Homo sapiens: one gene and its partner. The protein of the gene in region 2 interacts with the protein of the main gene of each other region in a biochemical or structural test. Each region holds a gene or a part of one and is shown on either strand. Other genes may lie near its edges.

Evidence for each region.
Region 1: the proteins of ATG2A (region 2) and ZDHHC11 form a complex in vitro, tested with the Homo sapiens proteins (one study listed by BioGRID).

The regions. Positions count from the first base shown.
Region 1 is NC_000005.10:847,987-855,839, forward strand, and holds the start of ZDHHC11 (palmitoyltransferase ZDHHC11), read right to left. Parts: upstream 3,001-7,853; 5' UTR 2,617-3,000; coding exon 2,395-2,616; intron 675-2,394; coding exon 496-674; intron 1-495. UniProt on the Homo sapiens protein: Endoplasmic reticulum-localized palmitoyltransferase that could catalyze the addition of palmitate onto various protein substrates and be involved in a variety of cellular processes.
Region 2 is NC_000011.10:64,900,201-64,907,219, forward strand, and holds part of ATG2A (autophagy-related protein 2 homolog A), read right to left. Parts: intron 6,616-7,019; coding exon 6,465-6,615; intron 6,334-6,464; coding exon 6,134-6,333; intron 5,994-6,133; coding exon 5,913-5,993; intron 5,649-5,912; coding exon 5,542-5,648; intron 5,456-5,541; coding exon 5,363-5,455; intron 3,477-5,362; exon of another isoform or gene 3,461-3,476; coding exon 3,390-3,460; intron 3,165-3,389; coding exon 3,088-3,164; intron 2,481-3,087; coding exon 2,316-2,480; coding exon of another isoform or gene 2,310-2,315; intron 2,256-2,309; exon of another isoform or gene 2,187-2,255; coding exon 2,060-2,186; intron 1,977-2,059; coding exon 1,762-1,976; intron 893-1,761; coding exon 684-892; intron 430-683; coding exon 294-429; intron 1-293. UniProt on the Homo sapiens protein: Lipid transfer protein involved in autophagosome assembly. Tethers the edge of the isolation membrane (IM) to the endoplasmic reticulum (ER) and mediates direct lipid transfer from ER to IM for IM expansion.

The DNA.
Region 1 (7,853 bases), on a different chromosome or scaffold from region 2:
GGCCTCCCTTGCAGCTGACAACAGCCCTGTAGCCAACCCCTAGGCCATCACAGAGGCCTCCAGGGCCCCTGGAGACACTGGAACCCTTACCTCCCACTTTCCTAGGGGCTTGTCTTGAAACTCCCCAAGAAAGACAGTGCTCTCTTGCCCTGGGCCCTCAGGGGAGGGACCTCGTGCACAAAATCCACTGAGGACCAAACATGCCTGAGTGCTGCTGTGTTTCATTCCAGGGGAGCAGCGGGTCACCTGCAGGTGACAGACCCAGCCCTCCAGTCTCAGCCCTGCCTGCGGAGGAGTTGGGGCGGCCCGGCACCGCGCCCGGTTCACAGCGAGATGAGGGGCGATCCACCCGCAGCCACAGGGCCGGGCCCTGGAAGCTCCACTAGCATCAGCTGCGGCCATGGCACGGGCCCTGAGGGGCCAGCAGTGACCTGAGCACCAGGACCCTGGAGGTGACCCTGACACCTTGGGGCCTCGGCGAGGGCGGGCACTCACACGGTGACCTTGCACAGGTGGCAGAACTGATTCTGGATCACGTGTGCATGTTTTGATCTGTCGAAGAGGGGCATGGGCTGAGAATAGTTCTTCATGAGTCTGACATTGGAGTCGGCCGGGTCGATGCAGGACGCGATCAGGTGGACGACGAGGTGGAACGAGAAGATCCCCCCGGTCACCTGGCATGTCAAGGAAGAACCTGGCCCAGGGCCTGGTCAGCCTGGCACGAGGCGTCCCCGTGAGGCCCAAGGGCCCAGAAGAGGCGTGGCCGCTGGTCAGCCCTGCTCACCCAGCCCTGCACACGTGAGCCCAGCTCACCCAGGCCTGGCCCTGCTCACACAGCCCTGCACACCCAGCCCTGCACAACTGAGCCCTGTTCGCCTGGCCCTGCTCACCTGGGCGTGCTCACCTGGGCCTGCACACCCAGCCCTGCACAGCCAGCCCTGCACAGCCAGCCCTGCACACCCAGCCCTGCTCACCCGAGCCCAGCTCACCCATGCCCGGCCCTGCTCACATGGCCCTGCTCATCCAGTCTTGCACACACGGCCCTATACACCCGGCCCTTCACACATGGCCCTGCACACACAGCCCTGCTCACCCAGATCTAGAGGAGATGAGTCCACCCGTCGGCCCTGCACACACAGCCCTGCTTACCCAGGCCTAGAGAAGATGAGGCTACCCATTGGCCCTGCATACACAGCCCTGTGCCAGTCGGGGACCGGGAAGGCTGCCCCCGTGCCCCTTTTGGTTCATCCCTGTTGGACACAGGGCAAATCCCCCACAGAATGTACCGCACCCCCAGAGGCTCAGTCAGCCCAGCCAAGCACAGTGACCCCAAAACCCTTTACAGCTTGAGGGACAGAGCAGGGCCACAGGAGGGACATCCCAGGTATAAACACAGCCGGATGCAGCCCCAAAGGCCCTGGAGGAGCCTGGGTTCTTTCATACCAGAGACCCCTGAGCACTGGGAGAGAAGACAGCCTCAGACAGGAGGAGCAGGGGGAGGAGCGAGGGAGCTGCACAACCTACCCGCTCCCTGTAGACCCCAGACAGCTCACTCAGGGACCCTCTCCCCGAGAATAGCTCAGGGAAACCCCCCTCAGACTCCCTCAGGGCCCCTCCGGACTCTCTCGGGGACTCCAGACTCTCTCGAGGACCCCAGACTCACTCAGGGACCCTGGGCCTCTTTCTTGGGCCCTCTGGGCTCAGAGCCTGGCTGCGGGGGCACTGGGGAGAGGATCCTTGTCCCCTGGAGCCAGGAGAAGCTGGGCTCCCCGTGCCTGGGACGTCAGCTCCCGCCCTCAGATCCTGGCTCCCTCCTCCTCTCACCCTGGGACAAACACAGACTCTCCATGGCAACCAAATAGAAGGGGTGGAGTGCGGGGCCCTCCAGTCACCCTGCCTGGCCCCTGGACCGCCTTCTAGCCAGGAGTTCAGGGTTGACAGCCATCTCCGCAGGGCAGCCCAGAGGCCCTCGCAGTGTGGCCTAAGCTTGGCATGGAAACGCAGGCTGCCGACCTGCGGGGCATGGCGCTGTTCCTCCTTGGCACCAGGGGCAAGGAGAAAGGTGCTGGCCATGTGCAAAATGCTGCGCAGGGATTTTAGCGGAAGGCTGCCAGCAGGGCGGGTCCTGCGCCACGCCAGGGGGCTGCTGTCCCTCCTGACAGATTCCCTCTCCGGAGCCCCCTCAGCCAACGCTGTCCTGTCCTGACCCTAAGCAGGGGCTGCACAGAGCATGAGTGGCCACTGGGCCCACCTGCAGGCTCAGGGGACATAGTCTGGCCCAGGGCAGGTGACTGGTGCCACCGGGCAGCCATGGCCCAGACCCCACAGCCAGGTCCATCGCAAGTTCCTCCAGGAACCCCTCCCGCTTAGACCATGCCACGATGAAAAGGATACCACGTAGGCAATGTATTTCCACGCGTGAGGCAGGAAGGGAATGAAGATCCCGAAGGTGGCCGAGGAAAGGCCCACGAAGACAGCCCAGGTCACCACCTGGAAGTAGTGCAGGGGTAACGACCAGCCGTTCACTCTGGAGATGCGGGGCGGCAAGACCAGCTTTTCATTATTGAGTATGGCTTCTGGGGTGACGGAACACTGGCTCCCGGAGCGGGTGTCCATCTGCAGGACACAGAAGGGGAGGACCTGCGCCGTCAGATCCTGGGAGGGCCGGCCCCGCCCACTGTCACAGAGACCAAGGGGACTGGGAATGCAGCCGCCAGGACCAGCACTGACAGCCAATGGCCCAGCACTGCCTGGGGCCACGTTCCCCGCAGAGGGAGCAGGGGCTGGGCTGGAGTCGGTGCAGGGCCCCGCCCAGGGGAATGAACAGACATGCTGCAGAATGTGACCCCGGCCAGAGCCGAGTGGCAACGGAAAACGGCTCTCCAGGGTGTGGAGGACCCAGTGCCCGCGCGACCGCCCATCAGTTCCCCTGAGGATTTGTTACGTTCTGGGGAGTGCTCGACAGCCCCCACACAGCGACAGGTCCCACAACCCGTTCACGAATACACAGGCCCACCCAGGACTCCCCAGGTGCAAGAAGAAAACCCACGTCAGAAAGAGGCCACACTGAGCAGAGGGCTGCGCCTGTGAGAAACTGAGGCAATGCCTGAAGAGCTCGTGAGCCGTTACTCACTGGTGCAACACTGAAACCTGCCAGATCCTCCCTGAGAGGCTTCTCTGAGCTTCCCAGAGGAGCAGGACCCGAGAGCTCACTTCACAGGGTCCTGTGTGTCTCCCCTTCCACAGGACAGGGAAGCCCGTCCAGCCACGCGGGGCTGGGGTCTCCGCCCGGGTGGACAGTGGCTGGGAGGTTCTGAACACGCTGCGGCTGCTCCTGGCCAGTCAGGTGGGGAGGGCGGCAGGGGTGGGAGGGACGTGGTGTCACAGAGCGGCAGTGAAAGACACTCAACGGCCGCTACGGGGTGGGGGGTTGATCTTGAGGGGCTGGGCGGTCTCTACAGAGGAGGGTTAGGAAGCTTCGCCACGTTATGCCTCGCTCAAAGTCCTTGTTGTCTCTTTGGGAAAAAACCTTCAGAAAATGAAGTTGATATTAAATGTATTTCTTTGAGAAGAGAGACATTGAGAAATAGTTAACAATTCTTCGTTCTTGCAGTCGTGAACGTCCATGATACAGTGGCTCTGCGCTGCCTTTGGTGGCTCCTCCCTGGTCCTCTAAATGTGACACCAGGCGGATGCGGGGCCACAGGACCCTGGGGCTTGAGTCACACAAGAATGTCTCTGGGAGACCCGAGAGACTCACAGTTATGAAACAGGACCATGGTTCTTTGGCCGGGCGCGGGGGCTCACGCCTGTAATCCCAGCACTGTGGGAAGCCGAGGCGTGCCTATCACCTGAGGTCAGGAGTTCCAGACCAGCCTGGGCAACACGGCGAAACCCTGTCTCTACTAAAAATACAAAGATTAGCAGGGCATGGTGGCACATGCCTCTAATCCCAGCTACTCGGGAGGCTGAGGCATGAGAATCGTTTGAACCTGGGAGGTCGAGGCTGCAGTGAGCCAAGATTGCACCACTGCATTCCAGCCTGGGCAACAGAGGGAGACTCCATCTCAAAAAAAAAAAAAAGAAAGAAAGAAAAGTCAAAGTTACCAAGGAAGGAAATAGAAACACAGAAAGACAACCCTGTACATTAAAAACACAATTCCCAGTTAAAAACAAAACCCAAATGAAAGTGCCAACAAACAGAAATGATGTCGCCAAGTCACATTGGTAAAACCTGGAATATCAAATCCAGGAAGGACCACAGATCTTAGAGAGGAGAAGAGGGGAATCGCTCAGCGGCCTTGAGCCTTGAGCCTGGAGACAACACGTTCATCTGTCAGGATTTCAGAACAGAAAGGTGGAGAGTCTGTGAGAGAAAAAAGAAAACACTGAAGAACTTTGAGAAGACTGAAGACTTCAGGTCGAAACTGTGCACCAAGAGCTGGAAAGGATGATTGGAAAAAGTAATACATCCAAATTAGAGAAAATGTGAGCAAGCCAGGGAGACAGACCCCACAGAGGACAACGAGCAGCGGGGACAGACTCCACAGAGGACAGTGAGCCAGGGGGACAGACCCCACGGAGGACAATGAGCAGCGGGGACAGACGCCACGGAGGACAGTAAGCTGGAGGTACAGACTCCACAGAGGACAGTGAGCAAGGGGGACAGACCCCACGGAGGACAGCGAGCCGGGGGGACAGACCACACGGAGGACAGCGAGCAGCGGGGACAGACCCCACAGAGGACAGCAAACCGGGGGACAGACCCCATGGAGGACAGCGAGCCGGGGGAAGAGACCCCACGGAGGACAGCAAGCAGCGGGGACAGACCCCACGGAGGACAGCGAGCCGGGGGTACAGACCACACGGAGGACAGCGAGCAGCGGGGACAGACCCCACGGAGGACAGTGAGCAGCGGGGACAGACCCCGCGGAGGACAGCGAGCCGAGGGGACAGACCCCACGCAGGACAGCAAGCAGCAGGGAAAGACCCCACGGAGGACAGCGAGCCAGGGGGACAGACCCCATGGAGGACAGCGAGCAGCGGGCACAGACCCCACGGAGGACAGCGAGCCAGGTGGACAGACCCCATGGAGGACAGCGAGCCAGGGGACACAGGCCCCACGGAGGACAATTAGCAGCGGGGACAGACCCCACGGAGGACAGCGAGCCAGGGAGACAGACCCCACAGAGGACAGCGAGCCAGGGGGCAGAGACTCCACAGAGGACAGCGAGCCGGGGGGCACGGACCCCACGGAGGACAGTGAGCAGCGGGCACAGACCCCACAGAGGACAGTGAGCAGCAGGGATAGACCCCACCGAGGACAGCGAGTCGGGCACAGACCCCGCAGAGGACAGCGAGTCGGGGGTACAGACCCCACGGAGGACAGCGAGCCAGGGGGACAGACCCCACAGAGGACAGTGAGCAGCGGGGACAGACCCCACAGAGGACAGTGAGCCAGGGGGCACAGACCCCACAGAGGACAGCGAGCGAGGAGCACAGACCCCACAGAGGACAGCGAGCTGGGGAGACAGATCCCACAGAGGACAGTGAGCAGCGGGGACAGACCCCACAGAGGACAGCAAGCCCGGGGGACAGACCCCACAGTGGACAGCAAGCCACGGGGACAGACCCCACAGAGGACAGCAAGCCAGGGGGACAGACCCCACAGAGGACAGCGAGCCACGGGGACAGACCCCATGTAGGACAGTGAGCCAGGGAGACAGACCCCACAGAGGACAGTGAGCTGGGGAGACAGATCCCATGGAGGACAGCAAGCCGGGGGGACAGACCGCACAGAGGACAGTGAGCAGCGGGGACAGACCCCACCGAGGACAGCCAGCTGGGGGCACAGACCCCACAGAGGACAGTGAGCAGCGGGGACAGACCCCACAGAGGACAGCAAGCCAGGGGGACAGACCCCACAGAGGACAGCAAGCCAGGGGGACAGACCCCACAGAGGACAGCAAGCCAGGGGGACAGACCCCACAGAGGACAGTGAGCTGGGGGCACAGATCCCATGGAGGACAGCAAGCCAGGGGGACAGACCGCACAGAGGACAGTGAGCAGCCGGGACAGACCCCACCGAGGACAGCGAGCCGGGGGGCACAGACCCCACGGAGGACAGTGAGGAGCGGGGACAGACCCCACAGAGGACAGCGAGCCGGGGGGCACAGACCACACAGAGGACAGCGAGCCGGGGGGACAGACCCCATGGAGGATAGCAAGCCAGGGGGTCAGACTGCCCAGAGGACATTGAGCAGTGTGGATAGACCCCACCAAGGACAGTGAGCCAGGGGCCACAGACCCCACGGAGGACAGCAAGCCAGGGGGACAGAACCCACAGAGGACAGCGAGCCGTGGGGACAGAACCCATGTAGGACAGAGAGCCAGGGAGACAGACCCCACGGAGGACAGTGAGCCGGGGGGCACAGACCCTACAGAGGACAGAGAGCCGGGGAGACAGACCCCACGGAGGACAGTGAGCAGCTGGGACAGACCCCACAGAGGACAGCGAGCCGGGGGGAGAGACACCATGGAGGACAGCGAGCCGGGGAGACAGATCCCACAGAGAACAGTGAGCCAGGGGTCACAGATCCCACAGAGGACAGCGAGCGAGTGGCACAGACCCCACAGAGGACAGCGAGCCAGGGTCACAGACCCCACAGAGGACAGTGAGCTGGGGGCACAGATCCCATGGAGGACAGCAAGCCGGGGGGACAGACCGCACAGAGGACAGTGAGCAGCCGGGACAGACCCCACCGAGGACAGCGAGCCGGAGGGCACAGACCCCACGGAGGACAGTGAGGAGCGGGGACAGACCCCACAGAGGACAGCGAGCCGGGGGGCACAGACCACACAGAGGACAGCGAGCCGGGGGGACAGACCCCATGGAGGATAGCAAGCCAGGGGGTCAGACTGCCCAGAGGACAGTGAGCAGTGGGGATAGACCCCACCAAGGACAGTGAGCCGGGGGGCACAGACCCCACGGAGGACAGCGAGCCAGGGGGACAGACCCCACAGAGGACAGTGAGCCAGGGGGACAGAACCCACAGAGGACAGCAAGCCAGGGGGACAGACCCCACAGAGGACAGCGAGCCGCGGGGACAGACCCCACGGAGGACAGCGAGCCGCGGGGACAGACCCCATGGAGGACAGCGAGCCGGGGGACACAGACCCTACAGAGAACAGAGAGCCGGGGAGACAGACCCCATGGAGAACAGTGAGCAGCGGGGACAGACCCCACAGAGGACAGCGAGCCGGGGGGAGAGACACCATGGAGGACAGCGAGCCAGGGAGACAGATCCCACAGAGGACAGCGAGCCAGGGGGCACAGACCCCACAGAGGACAGCGAGTCAGGGGGCACAGACCCCACAGAGGACAGAGAGCCGGGGAGACAGACCCCACAGAGGACAGCGAGCCAGGGGGCACAGACCCCATAGAGGACAGCGAGCCAGGGGGCACAGACCCCACAGAGGACAGTGAGCAGCGGGGACAGACCCCACAGAGGACAGCAAGCTGGGGTCACAGACCCCACAGAGGACAGCGAGCCGGCAAGACAGACCCCATGGAGGACAGCAAGCCGGGGGGACAGACCGCACAGAGGACAGTGAGCAGCGGGGACAGACCCCACCGAGGACAGTGAGCTGGGGGGCACAGACCCCACAGAGGACAGCCAGCCGGGGGGACAGACCCCACGGAGGACAGTGAGCCGGGGGGACAGACCCCACAGAGGACAGTGAGCAGCGGGGACAGACCCCACAGAGGACAGCGAGCGAGGGTTACAGACACCACAGAGGACAGTGAGCAGTGGGGACAGACCCCACAGAGGACAGTGAGCCGGGGGGCACAG
Region 2 (7,019 bases):
AAAACTCTTCCTGGCTCACATCCCCACTTGTTCAGGTCTTTGTTCAAATGGTGCCTTCAGAAGAGGACTTTCCAGACCCTCCCCAGCACACCTGTCTCCTCCACCCCTGCAGACTCTCCCCTGAGCGCTCTTCACCATCGGACACACTCGATACATCTTGGTCCCTGCCTGGCTTCCTCCACTACAAAGGCAGGGGTTTTCCTCTGCATTAGTCATTGCTACACGTGACATCGAGAACAAGGCCCGTTGTTCTATGACACACACGTGTAGTAGGCACTCGCCACCCCACTCACCTTGCTCAGCTGGATCTCCATGAGGACATGGTGCTGCCGCCCGCTGCCCCCCTGCGTGCGCCATGAGTTCTGGGGCCGGTTGGGGCCAGAGCAGCGGGAAGGGGAGCTCCTGGGACCTGAGAGGCCAGTTCTTGCCCTGGGAAGAGGGACAGGGGCCAAGCTGACTCAGAGGAACCCCATTCCCTCCCCGTCCTCAGCGGGCCTTTTAGCCTGGGACAAGAGACCCCCGCTAGCCCCAGTCCTGGAAGGCAGGCGGGATAAGGAAGGATGAGGAAACTGAGGCCCACCTGGGGTGGATGGGGCTCAAGGTCTCCAGCTGCTGAAAGTCAGACCTGGACCAGCCTGAGCCCCAACCTTCACCAGCTGCCACCTGCACCCGCTCCTCCTCACCTGTGGCCGGGGTGGGGGCCAAAGTCTCGGCCCCCATAGAGGTGCCAGACGAGGGAGACCTCACGTAGCACCACCCGAGTGCTGGGCACTGGGAAATGGGCAGGTGCCCGCAGCAAGTCCGTGCTGCCGATCGGCCGTGAGAAGTAACCGTCCCTCACAACGATGGGGCCGGGATGCAGCTGTGTCACCACAGGCTCCCCATCTCGGGGCTGCAGGGAGGCCAGGTAGACGTGTGACACAGATGTTCGATCCAGCCCAGCTGCCCCCAGCCCCAGCAACCTGGCCTCACTTCTTTTTCATTTTTTTTTTTTTATAGACAGGGTCGGGTCATGTTCGGTCACCCAGGCTGGAGTGCAGTGGCACAATCACAGTTCACTGCAACCTCTGCCTCCTAGGCTCAAGCGATCCTCCATTCTCAGCCTCCTGAGTAGCAGGGACTGCAGACATGTGCCACCATATCTGGCTAATTTTATTTTTATTTTTTGTAGAGACGGGGTCTCACTATGTTGCTCAGGCTAATCTCTCATTGCTGGACTCAAGCAATTCTCCCACCTTGACCTCCCAAATTGCTGGGATTACAGGCGTAACCTACCATGCTTGGCCTCCTCCCTGTTTTTGATGAAAGATGACACTCCTGGGTTGCTATCACCCGAGTCTATGCCTGAGTGGTCTGTCCAAGAGGAGCCTGAGAATGCCAGGCTCCTGCCAGCCCTGCCTCCTAAGACCTGGGTGAGTTCAGACATTCCCACTGGCCCTTGCAGCCACATGGTTCTCCATCCCTCTTGCTAACTGCCCTCTCCTCTTCCTCCATCCCTTGAATTTCCCAGTCCCTCTGCCCAAAACACCAGGCCTCCTCTTCCTCTGGAAATCCCCCTACTCCATCAAAGCCCAGCATCAGGGCTGCCTCCCTAGGGTGGCACAGACCTAGCACCACCCCCGAGGTGATGGCAACCACCTCCTGCCTGCTTCTCTCACCACGGGAGCTCCAGATGGCCAGGCAACCACCCCTGAGTGTTCCGTCCCCGCTCCAAACACACCTGCCTGGACGGCAAACTGGTCCATCCCTCCCACCACGCACCGGGATGCCCAGGCCGGGAGCATCAAGGATGCAGAACTCATCACTGTCCAGGGTGTCTCCATCGCCCTCCTCTTCCCTTTCATCTTCCTTCTCCTCTGAGCATGACCCTAAGCTGCCAGCAGGGCCCCCGACAGGTGGTGAAGGGGGTGGGGCCCCACTCCGTTCACCTGGGAATAGGTAGACGGAGATGGGCGACGCCTGAGGGAGGTGGCCACCTATAGGAGAGAGGCCAGTTTGGAGAGGCGCCCACAGTGGGTGCCTGACTGTGTCTGCTGTCCCCACAGCACCCCCACTTCACCTGAAGGCTGGGCCAGCTCCCGTAGGCTGCGCTCGGTGTCCAGGAGGGCGTCGGCCAGGTCACGCTGGTTGATGAGGGCCGTCTCCACTGGGGGGCACGAGGGCAGAGAGGCAGGACTCTCCGAGAGCTGGGCCAGGCAGGGGAGGAGCAATGAGTGAGACAGGACAGAGCTCCCCCAACCCCAGGCCCGAGGGCCATGGCAGGGGAGGGGCCTGGCCGAGCTCTGGTAGCCTGTGTGGCCAGGCCTCACCTGTACCTTCTGGCCGGCGATCTCCGTGGGGCTGGGGGGCCGGGGTGGGGGGTGCAGATCGCCTGTGCTCATTACGTACTGGAGCAGGTTGACCAGCAGGGCACAGGAGTCGGCACAGCTGTGCACGTGTACCACATTGTTGGAGCAGCGCAGCTCGAATAGTGGCTGGCTCTGCAGGGGCGGGGTGGGGGGAGCAGCTATGTGAACACAGGGGCCACTGCCTGCTGGCCCCACCCGCTCGCTGGGAGGGCACCGCAGTTCTGATCCTGCCACAGGCAGAACAGGGATGGTCTCTCCTGGAGTGGATGACCTGCCCAGTAACTCCACTGAACAGATGAACAAACTGTTCACCCAGAGGGTGAAAGGGGCTTGGCCCAGGGCCATCCAAGGAAGCAGGAGTGTGCCCACCCACCCTACCCCACTCCCCGTGAAGGGCTCTGCATGCCTAGCGAGGCAGGGCAGGTTATCTCCATCTTACAGGAGATGAATCCGGGGACCTACAAAGGTGGCTGATTCCCAGGGCCTCGCTGGTGCCCTGGCTGCCGCGTCCTCTGGTGGCAGGGCTGAAACCCATTCATTCATTCAGCCAGCATCAAGGGACACCCCCACCAGGGCTGTACTATGGCCCTTTGCAGGAGGGGCGCTAACTGCAGCCCAGGAAGGGCAGGCATGAACTGTGTCCGGAGCCCAGGCACGTGAGGGAGCAGCAGCCCCTGAAGACTCCCTTGGCCCCTGCACCTGCTGTGGCTCCAGGAGCCAGAGTGACAGCCTCACTCACCAGTTTGCCCTCGGTGCTCCCTTTCCAGGTTTTAATCACAAGTTCCAAGAGGTCAACATCCAAAACACAGACATAATCTGCAGCAGAGGCGAGAGAAAGGTCCTGTGGCCCCCTTCCACCCGGCCCCGGCCCCAGCACCTGGGGGAAGGATCCGGTTGATCCAGGTGTAGTCCCTGCTGTGCGGGCTACGTGTGGGAGCTAAGGACCCGGCCAGCAGCTGCGGGGAGACACCTGGCTGCTCTGGGTGTGGCCGGGGCGGTGGTCCCTCAGAGGGGAGGGAGCCCAGTCCCGGCCCTGCCCACCTCGCCGCAGGTCCAGGGTCTCCACCTCACACTTGTCGGACAGGTACAAGGCGGAGTCATCGAGGATGAACCTGGGGGGGAACAGGGCTGAGAAGGGCCCGGGCACCGCTGCAGGGGGCAGCTCCACGGGAGCCGAGCAGAGGGGTCCCAAGCCCACAGGAGGTGGTATGGACAGGCCCCTCCAGCCTCAGCGTTCCTGCCTGCACAATGGGGAGAAGGCCCAGACAGCAGGCAGTGGGAAGCGGGCAGCACTTGCAGCTCTCAAAGTGCCTGCAGTTCCGACACCTCAATGGGGCCTCATGACAGTCCTGGGAAGGGGTGTCCATTTTTCTCCCTGCTGCATTTGTGGTTCTTCTAAAATAAGTCCTTATTTTTGGCTGGCGCGGTGGCTCACGCCTGTAATCCCAGCACTTGGAGAGGCTGAGGCAGGCGGATCACCTGATATCAGGAGTTTGAGACCAGCCTGGCCAACGTGGTGAAACCCCATGTCTACTAAAAATACAAATATTAGCCGAGCATGGTGGCGGGTGCCTGTAATCCCAGCTACTTGGAAGGCTGAGGCAGGAGAATCTCTTGAACTAGGGAGGCAGGGGTTGCAGCGAGCCTAGATCACACCACTGCACTCTAGCCTGGGCGACAGAGTGAGACTCCATCTCAAAAAGAAATAATAATAAGGGCTGGGCATGGTGGCTCATGCCTATAATCCCAGCACTTTTGGAGGCCAAGGCAGGCGGATCACGAGGTCAGGAGTTCGAGACCAGCCTGACCAACAAGGTGAAACCCTGTCTCTACTAAAAATACAAAACTTAGCTGGGTGTGGTGGTGGGTGCCTGTTGTCCCAGCTACTTGGGAGGCTGAGGCAGGAGAATCGCTTGAACCCAGGAGGCAGAGGTTGCAGTCGGCTGAGATTGCGCCACTGCACTCCAGCCTGCTGACAGAGCGAGACTCTGTCTCAAAAAAAAAAAATAAATAAAAAAGTCTTTATTTTAAGGGTAACATAATGAAAACTCCTTTAAGATATTTTAGAATAAAGAAAATAAAAATCATTCATCATTCCTAATCCCTAATTCTGAGAAAACCACCATACACATCTCCTTCCAAACTTTCTCTGCAGCTGCACGCCGAGACATATAAACACCCCTTCATAAACTGATTTTAAAACGTACGCAGTCCTGTATCCAATGTTATTTGAGTAAACACTGTACTGTGGCATCTTTCTATATTTTTTATCTATCTATCTATCTATCTATCTATCTATCTATCTATCTATCTATGTATTTATTTGAGACGGAGTCTCGCTCTGTCACCCAGGCTGGAGTGCAGTGGCGCAATCTTCGCTCACCGTAACCTCCGCCTCCCAGATTCAAGTGATTCTCCTGCCTCAGCCTCCCAAGTAGCTGGGACTACAGGCGCCTGCCACCACCCCCGGCTCATTTTTGTATTTTTAGTAGAGACGGGGTTTCACCATATTGGCCAGGCTGGTCTCGAACTCCTGACCTTGTGATCTGCCTGCCTCAGCCTCCCAAAGTGCTGGGATTACAGGTGTGAGCCACCGCACCCTCCATCTTCTTATATTTTGAAGGGATTCTTCAGCTTCACCTTAATCCCTGCATGGTTTTCTACCTACTAGGTGGGCCATGCTTATTTGCTCAGGTTGTGAGGCTTGTGATTTAACTGATACGTTTTGGCTGTTTTAACTTATACTCCATAAGCATTAAATCCCACCTCTCTTATTCGCATATCCTAGGACAACCCTCAGACATGAGATTACAGGTCAGAGAGCACAAATGCTTATAAGGGTCTCATCAGGAGGCTCCAACTGCCCTCTAGAAAGGCGGAAACAATCCACATTCCTGAGAATGAGACTATCACCCGGGTGTACATTAAGACCGAGAGCACCAGAGGACACACAGCTGGCAGGCAGCTTCGGCCCGGCGAGGGTGGGATGGCCCAGTGTGGGGCGGCCTGCATACCTGAGCAGGAAGGTGGAGGTGTCCATGATGATGTTGCTGGAGAGAGTGAAGGTCTCCGCGGTGATGAGGACACGCACTGGGAGGTAGAGTGGCCTGGGGGTGATACTCGGGCTGGGGCCGGCTCCTTACACCTGAGAGCCCATCCCCGTCCCCAGCCCCTGGCCCACCCAGCCTGGTACCTATAGTCCACAGAGCAGGAGAACAGGTGTGTGTGCAGGATGGTGATGACCGTCGGGGGCAGGTAGCCCAGCACAGGGTCATCCAGCACGTCTAGGAACTCCAACAACTTCAGAGGCCAGGGCAGGAGGAAGCAGTGAGGATCAGGTGGTGTCCTCCCTCCTCTAACCCCTCCCTGTCCTGGCCCCTGCCTGGCACCTCACCTTCTGCCCACTAGCTGTCTGCCACACCCCTTGCCCAGGAGCTCCGGACAAGGTCAGCTGTGGCCCAGTCCATGTTCCTCCCACCGGCCTCCTCCCACCTAGAGACCTGCTTGCCCAAAACAGAAGTCCAGAGTCACTGGGCCATGTGGCTTCCCACCACCCACGCTCACCTGGGAATGCCAGCTCTGCTCGGGCAGGGCCATGTAGTGGCGCAAGGTGGCTTTGTGCAACCGCAGTGTCACCAGGAACTCCTGAGGGTGGGGGCGCAGTCAGGGCAGTGGGGAGGCCAGCCCCACCGTGCACTGGGGCCTCACCGCGCACTGGGGTCCCACCGCACACCGGGGCTGCAGCCCAGGCTAGCAGGAGGGGTGGATGGTAGGCAAGCCCATACCTTCACATTCTTGTGGGGGTCCAGGTGGATGCGCACAGCAGTGGACAACATGTGGGGTCCCCGGCCCTGGCCCTTGCGGCCCGAGGCTCCCCGCTCGGTCACCCCTTCCTCCGATGGGTAGATGGTTGGGGCCAGCTGAGCCGGGGGAGCGAAACTGGGAAGGTCCAGGTGACTGGGCAGCGGGTAGTCATCCACGGCCGCTGGGGAGGGGTCTCATGAGCCCCCTGCCAAGCCAACTGGCTACCCACTCCACCCAGGGCCCACATCCGTCCTGAAAGCCCTCCACCCCCAACCCTGGACCCCAGTGGTGACCTGCCCCCAGGCCTCACACCTCGGTGGTAGAGTGTTGCCTTTTCAGCTTCCAGACAGAAGTAGCCAAGTCCTGGCTGGCCACAGTACTGGGAGACGCTGAAGAGGGTACCGTGCTCCATGTCCAGCACCAGCTCCCCGTGCACAGCCTCCAGCCGCTTCCCACCCTCATCCTGCAGAAGGAGCACACAGCCTGGCTTCCCCAGCTGCACTCAGCAACCCTCAAGCCCTCTGGGGGTTGGCGGCTCCTGGAGCCCTGGCCTAAGGGGGTCAGCTCCAGTTTCCACCATGGACGCTGCTGGAGGCCCTGGATGGCACTTGCCTCTTTTGCCAGGAGAAAAATAATCTCTGCCGGGTCTGCCCGCTCGGAGTGGGAACAGTGGGTGCTCCATGCCCATCCCGACCCCTAGCATGGTGCTTTACATACAGCAGGGGGTCAGAAGGAGCTGATGGGCTGTGACAGGGTGGGCAGGCTGGCGTGGGTGGGCTGGCGCTGCCCACTCAGGCCTCCTGCTCTCCACATTCTTGACCTGGAGCTGCTCGCGCTGGTCTTGCTCTGCCGCCAATGGGAGCTCTG